Linked DNA regions of Homo sapiens. The protein of the gene in region 1 binds, or shares a complex with, the protein of each later gene. Each region holds a gene or a part of one and is shown on either strand. Other genes may lie near its edges.

Evidence for each region. The genes of interacting proteins can lie anywhere in the genome.
Region 2: NCAPG (region 1) and SMC4 share a complex: the UniProt entries of both Homo sapiens proteins name them as parts of the condensin complex.

What each region holds. Positions count from the first base shown.
Region 1 is NC_000004.12:17,809,280-17,813,236, reverse strand, and holds the start of NCAPG (condensin complex subunit 3), read right to left. Parts: upstream 2,259-3,957; 5' UTR 2,160-2,258; coding exon 2,049-2,159; intron 1,017-2,048; coding exon 813-1,016; intron 321-812; coding exon 92-320; intron 1-91. UniProt on the Homo sapiens protein: Regulatory subunit of the condensin complex, a complex required for conversion of interphase chromatin into mitotic-like condense chromosomes.
Region 2 is NC_000003.12:160,402,650-160,406,249, forward strand, and holds part of SMC4 (structural maintenance of chromosomes protein 4), read left to right. Parts: intron 1-26; coding exon 27-218; intron 219-1,678; coding exon 1,679-1,855; intron 1,856-1,938; exon of another isoform or gene 1,939-2,036; intron 2,037-2,095; exon of another isoform or gene 2,096-2,176; intron 2,177-3,600. UniProt on the Homo sapiens protein: Central component of the condensin complex, a complex required for conversion of interphase chromatin into mitotic-like condense chromosomes.

The sequences.
Region 1 (3,957 bases):
TCAAATGTATAGACCATAATAAAAAATTTCAAATACTGAGAATTTAACAAAATCAACAAATCTGAAAAAAGATTTAGGAAACTACACACACCATTAACCACTGGGCATTCATCATCCTTGGGATCCTGAAGTCGTGAAAGCGCCAGAACTGCCTGTATTCTCACATTTGGAATCTTATCTTTCAATCTAATAAGCATGGCTTTATTAATTTTATCAAACACATCATCATCAATCTGAGCATTTTCTGGCATACTTCCCAAAAGCTTGTTTATGAGCAGGCACACTCTAAATCTCACTGCATTGCTGTTTGCTTCATGAGACTAAAACAGAAACAAATCAAAATTTATTCATAGTCACATACCACTCCCAAATAATCAATATTATCTGAACTCTATACATTCGGAATGCAAGAAGTTACAACAACAATTCATTTCCTGAAGAGAACCTATAATGCTACCTTGGTCCATATGTATAGCAAATATATATATTTTATACAGTCTCAAAATGAACAGTCTGAAAGAAGTCTTTGCTAAGTTACATAGTCCTCTTTGTAGAGGCTTCTAAAATACAGAACTCATTTAAAATAAACAAAGGAGAACTGGTTTAAAGAGGTCATTAAAAATTTAATGCTGGAGTTAAAGTCCACTTTTTAATCATAATGATAATTCTAATATTTCCTATGAAAGGTAGACTCATTCAGGTTTTTTCAATCACTAGATATTTCATTGTCAAAAACATACAAACTCCCACGACTCTTTTAAAGTGGCAAAATTTTCTAAAATCCCTCCCCAAAGCTATCATTTTCATAGTACCTTTAAGAGAAAAGTAAACAAATAATTTAAAAGGCCACCATCTTCCTCTTCCTCATCATCTTCCATATCTGATTGGTGAAATGAGGTAACAAACTTTGCTGCAAATTCTATTACCCTCTCCACAGCTGGTTCACGTTTATAGACCACCATAACATATTTAAGGTAATGAATGAACTCCTCATGAAAAACTGTCTTATCATCCATCTGAAAGACAAAAGAAACCCTTCATAAACTGCACCGATAAAAATCCTTTATTCCCAACATCACCCTAAGACTGATGAAAGCACTAGCCATAATAATGCAGACAAATTAAAATATTTATTTAGTAAACTCTTAATTATCCAAACCAGCCAAAGGGCAATCAATTTGCATGAATTTCTCTCCAGGCTATAATGGGAGTACACAAGCTTGACTTTTGACAGTGAAAAGATTCCTTTGATATATTTTTTTCAATATCTTTGATTCTCAATAAGCCTTTAGTACCAGTACGTTACAAATACGCTTCTTCAACAACCCAAAATCAATACTGGCTTTTATATTTCTCATATTCAGGCCTTCCTATCACCAGCAGTTTCTTTATGAGATAACTTGCACATCCTATCTCATATCCTCAAAGCCCTGTGATGTTTACTCACAATTTTTCTTGGACCTCAAGATAATTCATCTTCCCCAAATTAATTGTTCTATTCTTCTCAAGGTTCCACTCAAAACAAACAAATAGTATGTACATAAATAAGAATGGCCAGGCCCTAAAAATAATTTGGTATTTGGTGATTGGATTCAACGTAACCGTAGGACAAGGGTAGAATCATTTGATGTTCGGCGGGGAGCGATGACCCCAGGGGCAACGACCACTGAACCCCCGCATTCAGGATCCACTCTGCGGTTCAATATTTGATGTCTGATCGCCTCGGTGGTCGTAAATGTTTCTCTCCACGTTCACGATCGGACTAAGGAATAACGGTCCACGCCGCCCAGAAGCTGGGGGTGTCGGCTCAGAAAAGCCAAGGCGGGGCCCGTGTGAACGACGCCCAGGCTTCGGAGGCTTTCTGGCCTGGGCCCAGGCGACCTCGGGTAAGTCCCTGACTTCTCCGAACCTCAGATCCCTATGAAGTGAGTCGCGAAGGTGAACAAGGCTGGAGTCACGGTGCGCCGAGCCCGAGGGCCACGGAGGGCCCCTGAGGGAGGGTGGGCCGGGGCGGGCGAGAGGCGGCGGCCGGGGCCGGGAGCGCTTACCGTGCGGTAGGTGCGGCTCAGCGCCACCACCAGCTTCGCCTGGTTCTGGTGCGGCTGCTGCGCCAGCCGAAAGGCCTCCTTAATCGACAGCAGCCTCCTTTCCGCTCCCATGGCTCTGGAACCCTGCCGGGACGAGTCCTGCCCGCGCTCGGCTACAGCCTGCCAGCCCGCCAACCCAGAGGCAGCGCTCTCCGAGTAGTCTTCTATGACAGCCCCAGGGAGTATTTACCGCTCGAACGTTCAAATAATTCCCGCGAGAGGGGGAAATCCCGCGAGACTGCCGTAAGCGCTTTGGGAGAAGAGAGCGGGAAGCGATGGGTCCACCCACCTCGCACCCCGCGCTTTGGGCGCATGCGTCTAGGTTCAACCTTGTCCAGCCGTTTTCACGGAGGGAAGTGGCGTTTCTAAGGGGGAGGGGCCTTGACTCGGCCGGAAGTAGCGTCGGCGCGGGAGCTGAGCGGAGTGGCCTTGCCACCGGAGGGGAAGGGCTGCTGGCGTTAGGCCTGGCTGGGTCGTGCGGCTGAGCGTGAGGCTAGAAAGAAAAAGCGATCCTCCAAGAGTGAGAACGGGAGATCTGCCGAGGATAACAACCTCCCTTGTGGCCGAAGGGCGGGGGATCCCCACACGAGGGCTCCGCTTCGAGAGACGGCGACAAAGGAAAGTTCGTAGCGCGTTCCGGAGGCCCGGCCACCTCTGAGAAGGGAGACGACGCTGCTGGGTCCGCTGAGCGGGGCGACCCGAGGTTAGTGGAGACGGATGCTGTCTTTTGAAGGCCTTAGTCCCTGCCCTGGTGAAGCCGACTGCGAGGTTCCACAGGGCGTGCAGGCAGTCCGGGGATCGTTGCGAAGGGGGGTGCGGGCTAACTTAGCTGCTGCCGTTTCTAGATGTGCAGCTGTGTAGGCCCTGTTTACAAGTGTGCATAAGGACAGTGTATTAAGGGAGAACTCAAGAGAATGGAAAGGTCTTTCGGGTAGTGGTTAAAATAAAGAAGAGTAGGAACTAGGTTTTTAAATTTTAAATGAAATTATATCAGACAGAACTTCTGTTGGATCTCAGGATGCACCATCCAAAAATAGGACTGTAGGAGACCAAAATATGCCACCCTACAATATACTTCTAGAGTATATTTTGAGCTGGTATTCTGATAAAATGCAGACACAGGAGTCGCTCTGAAAATCTGTCCTGTTGTAAAAGAAATTGACATCTACAGAGGAAATATACATCAGTAAAGGATCTGTATCAGAAAGAGGGCAGCTCTGCGATAATTTTTGTTACCTGGGAGATCTTATCTGCATACCAAGACAACTTTTATTCACCGTATATTTCCTCCCCTCACCTTTCCACAACTTTGTGGCCACCATCCCCCAGAAAGCCGCAAGCCCCCATTTCTTGAGTAGCGTAGGATGCTGTATAATATTCAATCATCTGACCATGGTGGGACTCCTCTGCGTATGTAATTAAGTACGGGTTTTTTTTCTTGTTAATGTCTATGTCAGGTTAATTTGTAACCCAGCCAAAGAACCTAGGAGGATGGAGGGAAGCCGTTTTTCCCTCTCCTACACCTCAGTAACCTACTGCCAGCTGAAGAAATAGAACATTACTAAAGCCACCTGTACATCTTTCTCCTTTTGAATTACCTGCCCTCCGAAGAAGTAATGGATTTTCTGAATTTACTGTTAACTTTTACCATGCAGCTTTCTATATCTTAATGACATATTTTAATATATTAATGACATGAATAAATCCCTGAATGAGGATATTGTACTATTTTGCATGTTTTAACCGTTAAATGAATAATTATATGTGCATCTGGCTTTTTTCAATCAATATTGCTGTGGTTCATATTGATATGTTCATAATAGTAACTTGCACTTAATTAACCTTTATTATGTGCCAGACACCATGCTAA
Region 2 (3,600 bases), on another chromosome or scaffold:
GTTTTGTTTTTGTTTTTTTAATGCAGCGCTTTTCCTGTATTATCGGGCCAAATGGCAGTGGCAAATCCAATGTTATTGATTCTATGCTTTTTGTGTTTGGCTATCGAGCACAAAAAATAAGATCTAAAAAACTCTCAGTATTAATACATAATTCTGATGAACACAAGGACATTCAGAGTTGTACAGTAGAAGTTCATTTTCAAAAGATAATTGATAAGGTAAGGGATTTTTACTGTTATTGGCAAGTTCAAGTAAGGAAAATGGACTTAAATGCATTACATATTTTATTTTTGGCTTTAAGAAATTTGTATGTAATTACAGCGGAAAGCATTGGTTTCATTATCTCTGACCGTATTTTATTTTGGGGGAGTGGTGGTGCCTGTTAAAATACTTATTTTTTAGCTAAAGAAATGAAGTATAAATAGTTCATAGTAATCCTTTTTGGAATAAAAGCATTGAGCAGTTTTAGGGTCCTGAGTACTAAATAGGCATTATTTTACTATAAATATTCAGTTCATTTTTAAAGTTATATTTTGATTGCTTTAGAATAAATTAGCTAAACTTGAAAATGTAGCAGTTAGCCGGTTTTACCATCTTCATTATTTCAGTGCATTTTAACTCTAATGTTAGTGGCCCCTGAGTATCTGTGATATGAAAGAGCTTTGCTTCAGTTTGACTACTGCTGTAATTAAGTCCTTTAGAAATGGGGGAAGGACAAGCTAATGTTTGTTTTCTAGAAATGGAGACAACTAGAGGTAAAATGTCTAGATTATTTACCTGTTGAGACTTTTTCTCTTCTGTTTAATAATGTAGGAAATTGATTGTTCAAAAATGACTCGATGGAACCTAAAAATATAGAAAACTAATTACATAATGAAATTGGGAGGTGATTTGTCTTTTGAATTCGTTTTCCTTTTTTTAATACAAAGTGCTTTAATTACACAGAATCATCTATTTTAATTTGGTTTCTTTTGTGCTTTCTATTGTACAAGTTGGGTTGGAAAATAGATTGCCAGGAAATCAGATTTTATTCCATTGCATATTAATTACATTTGATTTATCTAAATTTTAGAAGCCTTTGCTTCAGTATGACAGAACTTTTAAGGTTAAGGGAAAGTGTTAAAGTAGATTTGCAATTGATTTTTTTAAAAATCTGTTTAAAAGAAAATCAAGGGAATTTAGTTGTTATTTCTTTGTGATTCTTTTTACTTTAAATTAACGGCACACTCTTTACCCTCCCACACAAAAAAACTAAAGTGTATCACCCGGTTACTACCTTCCTTCCTTTTTCTTTGAATCATCATTTTAAAAAGCTGCAGCTTTTTAATCTGTCAACATGTTAATAATTTGTGTGGGTTTTGGATATGGTGGGAATCTTGTCTACGTCTTCTCAATCATAAACGTTTTTAGGCTTGTTTGGAGGTGGGTTTTTTCGTTGGCTGGTTGGTTTGGCTTCTTGATTTTTGTGATCTTTGAGAAAGGGACCAAAACAGCATGGAAAAGTATCAATTCTTTGCTAAGTTGGGTTATTAATGAGAACTACTGGCAGTTTGTGTGCATGTTCAATTGAAGTTTTTAATCCATAGAATTAGTTTCAGTATGAAATGAGTGAATTTTGAAGTAGGCCTATGACTTAATACCAACAATTGTTTTCTGGTTTTGTTTTTCCTCAAAACAGGAAGGGGATGATTATGAAGTCATTCCTAACAGTAATTTCTATGTATCCAGAACGGCCTGCAGAGATAATACTTCTGTCTATCACATAAGTGGAAAGAAAAAGACATTTAAGGATGTTGGAAATCTTCTTCGAAGCCATGGAATTGACTTGGACCATAATAGATTTTTAATTTTACAGGTAAGTTTATTAAAGACTTCAAAGATTCTCTTATTCTTGTTACTTTTTTTTCTATAAAGCTAGGTTGGATGAATCCTACATTTTTGAGGCCTTAAAGTACTGTAGCAGCACATCATGGTTTACATGCTACAGTCAAGATGCGAATCATTATTTGCTGCTCTAGAAATTTAAGGAAATTCATTCAAAACTATGTTTTCATCATCAGATGTTCGTTTTATGTTTGGATGAACTGACATACTTGTTCCACTCTAGCAGCACGTAAATATTGGCGTAGTGAAATATATATTAAACACCAATATTACTGTGCTGCTTTAGTGTGACAGGGATACAGCAACTATTTTATCAATTGTTTGTATTTCCCTTTAAGGTAACATTTTAAATGAAATGTATTATATTTTAATCTATCCTTTTCCTTTGTTTTTGTTCTTATTATCTCTTCTGATATATAACCAAAAAATGAAAAAATCTGTACACTTGGTGTTTGATTTACCTAAGCACCTAGTTAATTTAATCTTTGTAACACTTTGGATGGTTAACTTAACCTTTACTCAAGTTGGTTTTTGTTTTGTTGAAAATGACTTACTTGGTGGAACCACTACTACTGAAAGAACGAAACTTTGATATTACATTGTTAAGTATCAGAGCTGTTACAGAGCAAGTCCTTTTAAAGAGATGTAAAAATTAAGTACCTGTGCCAAACTGATTTTTATTAGAAACCCTGTTTTCTTTAAGTAAAAGTATATTCTACCAGCATGGCTTGGTAAGAAAAATCCCCTATCTTTTTTTCCCTGTCCTCAAAATTCAGAATTTTTCGGAAAAAAAAAAAATTAGGGTAAAACCATGGCTTTGTCAAGTTCCTGTTTGATTCGAGGGTATCTTCTTTTCCTGTGTTCTATCCAGAATCACCGAAGCATAATAAAAGCAAAACTATTTTGTGATGCAGAAATGACTGAAATAAGTAGGGAATTTTGTTAGGGTGACTGGATGTTCCTAATAACAAACTTATAAAATGTTAGCCTCTGTTTCCATTTTAGTCTTTATTCTTCAATTGTTTCTAAAAATTATTACTTTTAGACATTCATAGTATACAAGGTAAATCAGTATCATTCTAGGATAACCTTTTTTAATATCTTTTGTTACCAGGCACAGTATATTTGCAATACTTCAACCTAAACTTATTTAAAAATTAATGTTGAGGAAATTAATTGCAGATATATTTCTAAACAAGATTGGAATTTATAGAATGTGGCATTAAAGGATTTTGTGTGTTTTTAAAATCAAATTGAACTGTTTTATTGACTTACATATTCTGGGACTTGGTTTGGTTAATAATGGATAAAAAGTTATGTCCCTATATAATACTAAATTTGATGATGATACCAATTTGCAGGAAATTGTACTTATGTTTATCTTTTGCTTAATCTTTTACCGTCATCCTGGGATAATCAAAGTTTTACATTTATCCAAAGATTCATCAAAATACACTGCATTTTAACCCTTCTAAGGATAATTTTTTTCTCTGTACAGCATCTCTGTACGTAATTCAGTAATAAAGGAAGCTAATGTAATATTGTCCCAACGAAGTAAATAATTTATAAATTGTCAAATTTATATTACATTTGTGCTTCTGAAGTATATGGGATGCTAAAGCCAATTTGTTCACATGATAATCTGAACCTTTTTATGTGATCTTTACAATTGTTTAAAAAACATTTCTTCCCAAATAATACAAAGGTGAATGTTCC